Linked DNA regions of Homo sapiens. The protein of the gene in region 1 interacts with the protein of each later gene in a pairwise test. Each region holds a gene or a part of one and is shown in the gene's direction. Other genes may lie near its edges.

Region 1 (3,953 bases):
AAAAAGCTATATATATGAGAATTATAATTTATAATATACCATAATATTCATCTATTGCAAACCGTACAATTCAGTGATTTTTTTTTTTTTTTTTTTTTTTTTTTTTTTTTTTTGTGATAGAGTCTCACTCTTTCACCCAGACTGGAGTGCAGTGGTGCAGTCTTGGCTCACTGCAACCTCTGCCTCCCGGGTTCAAGCAATTCTCCTGCCTCAGCCTCCCCAGTAGCTGGGATTACAGGCATCTGCCACCATGCCTGGCTAATTTTTGTATTTTTAGTAGAGATGGGGTTTCACCATCTTGGCCAGGCTGGTCTTGAACTCCTGACCTCATGATCCACCCTTCCTTGGCCCCCCAAAGTGCTGGAATTACAGGCGTGAGCCACTGTGCCCGCAGTGATTTTTTTTAGATTTTTTTTTTTTTGAAATTTATAGGGTTGTGCAGCTATCATCACAATCCAATTGTAGAACATTTTCATTATTCCAACAAGTTCTCGTGTCCTTTTACAGTGACTTTTATGTTGAGTGGTTTATGAGAGTATATTTATATGTGTATTTTTGTGTGTATGTACATATAAATATGTCTTATGCCTATGTGACCATATTTATTATGTAAGGACGTATCTGTTAATTTATTTCATTGCCTGTTTTTAATACAAATGAATAATGTTTGAAAGTTTTCTTTTTGACATGCATGGTTAAATCAGCAGGTTCAAGTTGTATTCTGCGGGCAAAGTGAAACAGAAAAATCTTGTTATAACAAAATATGGCAACATTGTAGTAAAATTTATTTTCTGTGAGTAAAGGAAGATGGCGTTTCATATTCTGAATTGTTTGTTCCATGTTGTTTGTTAAAGAGGATGGCATTCCCTGTGGATATGCTGGAAAATTGCAGCCATGAGGAATTGGAAAATTCTGCTGAAGATTACATGTCAGATTTAAGGTGTGGGGACCCTGAAAATCCAGAGTGTTTTTCTCTTCTCAATATTACGGTAAGGTGTTCTGCAGTGATTGTCATCAATCTTTTCAGTTCAGTTTATACATGAAATAAATATCCTTTTTTAAAAAAATCATTTTAAGTGTTAATCATTAATTTTTGAAATCTTTACAGAAATCTATTCAGTAAAATGGATAAATATTGGTTGATCAGTTTTTAAAAAGAGAAACTCCACAGGTTATTGCTATTTGACTTTATGGCTTTAAAATTATATGTGAGAATACCACCAGTTTTGCTAAGACTGTTTACTATATTTGAGCTGCTTCAGATTTACTTTAGATTTGGAATTTGTGAGTTTAGAAAATTTTTTAATTAAAAAATCAGCAAAACACTAAATTACATATTTTTTGTGCCATGAATCTTTTCTTCCTTTTTCTAAAAAAGTAAAATCAAATTTTCTAGTCAGTAAATTATAATATTTTGTGATAGATCATTAGACTTGGAACCATTAGGGTTTCACTGTGAACTGTGGTGGACAAATTCCTTAACCTCTCTAGGCCTTAGATTTTTCTTCTGGAGGTGACTTAAAGAATTTTTTAAAGTCTTCCCCAGCACCAATATTTTTATAATTCTCTGAATTGTAATGTTATCTCTAAATAGGGAATAAGTGTTGGATTAAATGAAGGCAAAAAAATGTTAAAGCATATTAGTAGCATGTATCTTCCCAGAAAAATTAATTTACTTGACTGCTTTTTTTTTTGTTTTTTTTTTGAGATGGAGTCTCGGTCTGTCGCCCAGGTTGGAGTGCATTGGCACGATCTTGGCTCACTGCAACCTCTGCCTCCTGGGTTCACGCCATTCTCCTGCCTTAGCCTCCCGAGTAGCTAGGACTACAGGCGCCCACCACCATGCCCGGCTAATTTTTGATATTTTTAGTAAAGATGGGGTTTCACTGTGTTAGCCAGGATGGTCTCGATCTCCTGACCTTGTGATCCGCCCGCCTTGGCCTCCCCAGAGTGCTGGGATTACAGGTGTGAGCCACTGTGCCCGGCCTGCTTTTTTTTTTTTTTTTTAACTAGATAATGGAATATCTTCCTCAAGTAGGCTAAATAACAGATGATAAATTATAGTTGTTTTTTAAATGACTTTATGGGCCATATTATAGCTTTGGTTTTTATTCAGATGTGTGGCTAGATACATAATAATATTTATGAAACAACTTTTCATATTTTCCCTAAGACAATAAAATTATTCCAAAAGGGAAGTCTATCTGATTTACTCTTTTTTTAGAGACTAGAAATAATGTCTCCTATAAAATAAATTAAAATTAACGTAGGAAATATTTACTACTTTGATAAAAGATTGATTTTTTTAATGTATTTTCTTAACAGACTGTTCACTAATCTTTATTAATTTGTCATTTCAGATTCCTATTAGCCTGTCAAATGTAGGCTTTGTACCTCTTTATGGTGGAGATCAGACCCAGAAAATTCTTGCTCTCTTTGCACCTGAAGATTCACTGACAGGTCTCTTTTTGCTTAATTTTTATAAATTAAGGAATTTTTCTCCAAACTGTTAGAAATTTATTTAAAAGGTAGCTACATGAAGGAATTTGGTTTTTTTTTTAAAGTGTTTCAAATTGTAATTTTATTAAAATGTAATTCTTAATTGCTTATAGCTACATGTTTGATGGATGAATGTCTGCTATCACACTGCTATAAAGAACTTCTTGAGACTGGGTAATTTATAATAGAAAGAGATTTAATTGACTCTCATAGCCAGGCACGGTGGCTCATGCCTGTAATCCTAGCACTTTGGGAGGTCGAGGTGGGTGGATCACCTGAGGTCAGAAGTTTGAGACCAGCCTGACCAACATGGTGAAACCCTGTCTCTACTAAAAATACAAAATTAGCTGGGCGTGGTGGCACATGCCTGTAATCCCAGCTACTTTGGAGGTTGAGGCAGGAGAATCGCTTGAACCCAGGAGGTGGAGGTTGTAGTCAGCTGAGATCACACCATTGCACTCTAGCCTGGACAATAAGAGTGAAACTCCATCTCAAAAAAAAAAAAAAAAAAATTAAAAATTGACTCACAGTTCCGCATGGCTGGGGAGGCCACCAGGAAACTTGCAATCATGGCAGAAGGGGAAGCAGGCACGTCTTACATGGTTGCAGGCAAGAGAGAGTGTGTGCGCACGTGTGTGAAGGAGGAACAGTCAAACATTATGAAACCATCAGATCTTGTGATAATGGGACCCCCCCACCCTGACCCATGATCGAATCACCTCTCACCAGGTCCCTCCCTCTACATGTAGGAATTGTGGGGATTACAGTTCAAGATGAGATTTGGGTGGGGATGTAGCCAAACCATATCAGTGAAATAAAAATGGTATAAATGAGGCTACAAAGTACAATATTACTATTTGGTAAGGTTTATATAGATACTCTTAAATATAAAGTATATGGATACTTTATAGTACAATATGGCCTTATTAAGTCTAAAAGTGTACTTTAAAACTCAAGTGTTAATGATTATTTATTCTATTTTAGCTGTGGCACTTTACCTTGCTGATCAGTGGTGGGCTATTGATGATATTGTGAAAACATCTGTTCCTTCAAGAGAGGGGCTTAAGCAGGTAACAAGATCCTCTAATTTTGAGTGTTTCTTTTGAGGCCATTTCACAGTGTTTCCTGTAAACAGTGATAGTTTTTGAGCTCTTCCCCATTTAAAAATAATCAGGTTATATTAAACCCTAGAATTTCATTCTTACGATGAAGCCAGCATTCGGGTTGGGCTTCCTCCATTTTTATGTGATTCTATAAGTATCTGAGATTGGGTGAGGAAGAATGAATACCTATGGGTTAGTTGAGCTTTGGCTACCTTTATCCAAGTTAGCTTCTGATTTTCTTATTTGATAGAGGAAAAGCTAGTTCCCTTTGTGTGATTGTTTAGCTTCTGTCTCTAGGAGAGACTGACCAGGAAACTTGTTTATTAGTAGGGCCTCTTCAGGTGGTCTATA
Region 2 (3,600 bases), on another chromosome or scaffold:
CATTTCCATACTTTTGAAGTCTTATAAGTCATCCAGATTCATTAATTCAAAGGGAGTTCCTCCCTGGTAGTTGGAATGATAGGTCATTTTTTTCAAGGACCCAAGATCGGGCTGGGATAGGGATGGCAGTGTATCTGGATGAAGATAGGAGATAAACAAAGCCAACAGTCCTTTGCCAGAGCTGAGCTGGTGGTATTTAACAGTCTTTGCATTAAATTTAAAGTTCTTAATAAATACCCAGAATCTATTAATTGCCAGAGGGGTAAAGTGAAGCTCTGTTGTAAAATAAAGCTGATTCCCTGTATGCGGTGTCCCTGTGTATACTGGGTGTATACTGGGTGTCCATTATGGAACAAAAAAAAAATACTTATTTGCTATTTTGTTCTATAGAATGGGAACTTCAGGGGGTGGATACCTGTGCTGTCAGGAATGCTAGTTATAAAAATGAATTAAAACACTTCATATATTACAAAGGAAGTGATTCCATCTATTTGGACGAAAGCAATTAAACTGCAAAAATATAAAAAATGGCAACTATTATTCAGTCTACAGTAACTATGCAACAAAGACACCAAGGAAAGTTGGTAGGCATTTACGTATCTCACTTAAAACAAGTCTATAAAGTGGTTTATTTTAAGAAGGGTACATTTTAAGAAGGACAAAATCAAAAGCATGGACAAGTGTTGGATGAGCTGATGAGGTTGTGGCAATTTACTTTGTGAATACTGTGAGAGTTTGTCCAACTCGCTGTGCTTAGGTACTAGATGGTGAGGATTTAAAAGGTCAATGAAGTCACAGCAGACCAGCACTCAAACATATTTCTCTTCTATTTCCTACTTTTGAATAAAAATGTCAGAAGTGGGCGGTGGGAAAGGAACAAGCAAAGGAGTAATTATTTGAATAAATTTTTGGCGAAACGTGGGTGTCTGACGGGGAGGCTGTGCGGTGGTGACCAACGCACCCATGCGCTGGGTTTCACAGATGCAGACTGAAGTCCAGGCTCTGCTGCAGATTAACGGGGTGGCCGCCAGCAAGTCAAGTGACTTGCTCTTCTGTGCACTGCATGTACTTGGGTTCCTCTCACAGGTATTCCTGTTTTTCCTCTTTCTTGCTCCAGGTTACACCTCGTGGCGCGGCGCTCTCGGAGAGCCTGTGGAGTGGCCCTGTGTCCCTCCCTGACCCCTGGAGGATTCCGTAAGGTCACAGTCACCGCCTCCATCCCCTACTTGCCATGTCTTCAGGGCTAATGCATAACAATTATCACAATTTACAGCAGCCCCACGCTCTGAAGAGCTTCTGGAGGGGATACTACTCAAGCGGAGGAAGGCAAGACAGGGACCTCCTCCCTCTTCCCGGACCTCTTCTGATAAGGAATATTTGTAGGTGGTTAAGAAAGGCAGCGGGAGGGCGTGAAGGCAAAGACAAGCTTTTTTTCTCGTAGGAACACACATCTTCTGGTCTGGCTGTGTTTCCGGAGGCATTTCCAGAGGACCTAGCGAGGACCAACTTCCGGCTGCGACTTCCGCGTCTTCCGAGTTTCGAGACCTGCTGCTTCCGCCCGGAGTTGTTGTGGGCTCCAGCAGCGAGTAGCCACTTCCGCTAGGAGTCCCTAGCGGCCAGGGCGTGGAAGCGGATTCTGAGGCGGCTTTCTCCTACTGCCCTCCGCTTGCCAACGCGGGACCCGGAGCCCAACGGCAGCGGCGGTCCTTGGGCCTGTGGAGAGGGGTTCTCTGTGGCCGAGTCCTAGGCCTGGTGAACCGCGCGGTGCGGGAGAGGCGCTTGGGCCTCGTCCAGCCCCAGCCCCTGTCTCCCCGCGGCCGGTGCCGGCGGCTGTAGGCCTCGCCGCGCCCACCCAGCCTGGGGCGGGCCCAGCCTCACCGCCCGGCCCGCCCCGCCCCACGGGCCAGCCCCGCGCCGGGTGTTTCCGCTACTTCCCTGCGGCGGGGTAACCGCCTCGCACCTACCGGGCTCGGTTCCCTGGCTCCGGCCGCGGGGGAGCATGGAGTTTGCGGAGCTGATTAAGACCCCGCGGGTGGACAATGTGGTGCTGCACCGGCCTTTCTACCCGGCTGTCGAGGGCACCCTGTGCCTGACGGGCCACCACTTGATCCTGTCCTCCCGGCAGGACAATACGGAGGAGCTGTGGCTCCTCCATTCAAACATCGACGCCATCGACAAGCGGTGAGTGCCCGCCCCACCCCAGCTCCGCAGGGAGCCGGGGGTCCCTTGTGGGCGCCCCGGGAAATACTTCCTGGCGTTTTCCGCGCAGCCTGCCGCCCAGCTAGCCGGCAAGATGAGCCCTCTGTGGCCTAGAATCAGGATTTACCAAGCTGAAACCCGTCCAGATGGAGGACCCGGTTTCCATTAAACCTGGATGGAGTTCTCAGGGTTATCGTGTGGCTGGTACCATCCTGATGATCATTTCTGGTTCGTAACACCATTTGGGTGGATTTTCGGCATTGTCTTTATAAATTTCTTCTTCTTCTTGCCCCATCGTATTCCTTGAATTGGTATTGTCAGTCACCGTTCATGAAGTGATTGGATGTGATTTAGGTAAAGTCTTTACCATTTCTGAGGAAAACTAAACAGATTATAAAGTTATGAGTGTCTACATGCTACAGAACCATTTTTTTAATTTCTGAAAAATGTTCAGTGTATCATATTATTTCTTACCTTCTGGGTCATCAAAATTTAATTCTCACTAAGGGAGATTCTGATGTCTTCTCTTCATCTTTACTCAATTCTGCTTGCTGAAAGAACAGGGTTGGCTCTCAAGGAAAGGCATGGACCAGTTAACCTCTTTTTTCTTTTTGTACTCCAGACTTTATCTTTCCAAGGCAGTGCCTCGAAGTCAAAAAGTTAAACTTTCATCTGCATTCAAAATTCCCATCTCCTTAGTGGCTACTCGCTAGCCAGGAGAGGGCAAACTGATTATCCGTTTTACACAGAAGTATAAATGAATGACGACAACATTTTCTATTGCCTCACAGGATAATTTGGATATTAGGAAGATTCGTACAGAGGATATGCCTTAAAATAATAATCTCTTTCTTTCTTTCTTTTTTTTTTTTTTTTTTTTTTGGAGACGAAATCTCACTGTATTGCCCAGGCTGGAGTGCGGTGGCCAATCTCGGCTCACTGTAACCTCCACCTCCCAGGTTCTAGCGATTCTTCTGTCTCAGCCTCCCGAGTAGCTGGGATTACAGGCACGCGCCACCACACCCGGCTAATTTTTGTATTTTTTAGTAGAGATGGGGTTTCACCATATTGACCAGGCTGGTCTTGAACTCCTGACCTCGCAATCCTCCCGCCTAGGCCTCCCACAGTTCTGGGATTACAGGCGTGAGCCACTGCGCCTGGCCTAAAATAAAAATTTCTAATGGTAGAATTGCAGGCAGTTTGGGTGAAGCCATGGTAGATTGATTGATTGATATGAGCAGGGGGCTCTTATTAGTCTCCTCAAGCCACCTTTTGCTGTATAAAGTCTTCAGTGGGCCCGGCACGGTGGCTCACGCCTGTAATCCCAGCACTTTGGGAGGCCAAGGTGAGCGGATCACCTGAGGTTAGGAGTTTGAGACCAGCCTGACCAACATGATGAAA

What was found.
Region 2: the proteins of FAM169A (region 1) and MTMR9 interact in binary tests that used the Homo sapiens proteins (3 or more experiments, as listed by UniProt).

What each region holds. Positions count from the first base shown.
Region 1 is NC_000005.10:74,838,581-74,842,533, reverse strand, and holds part of FAM169A (soluble lamin-associated protein of 75 kDa), read left to right. Parts: intron 1-854; coding exon of another isoform or gene 855-857; coding exon 858-989; intron 990-2,360; coding exon 2,361-2,460; intron 2,461-3,483; coding exon 3,484-3,569; intron 3,570-3,953.
Region 2 is NC_000008.11:11,282,890-11,286,489, forward strand, and holds the start of MTMR9 (myotubularin-related protein 9), read left to right. Parts: upstream 1-1,926; 5' UTR 1,927-1,999; coding exon 2,000-2,181; intron 2,182-3,600. UniProt on the Homo sapiens protein: Acts as an adapter for myotubularin-related phosphatases. Increases lipid phosphatase MTMR6 catalytic activity, specifically towards phosphatidylinositol 3,5-bisphosphate and MTMR6 binding affinity for phosphorylated phosphatidylinositols.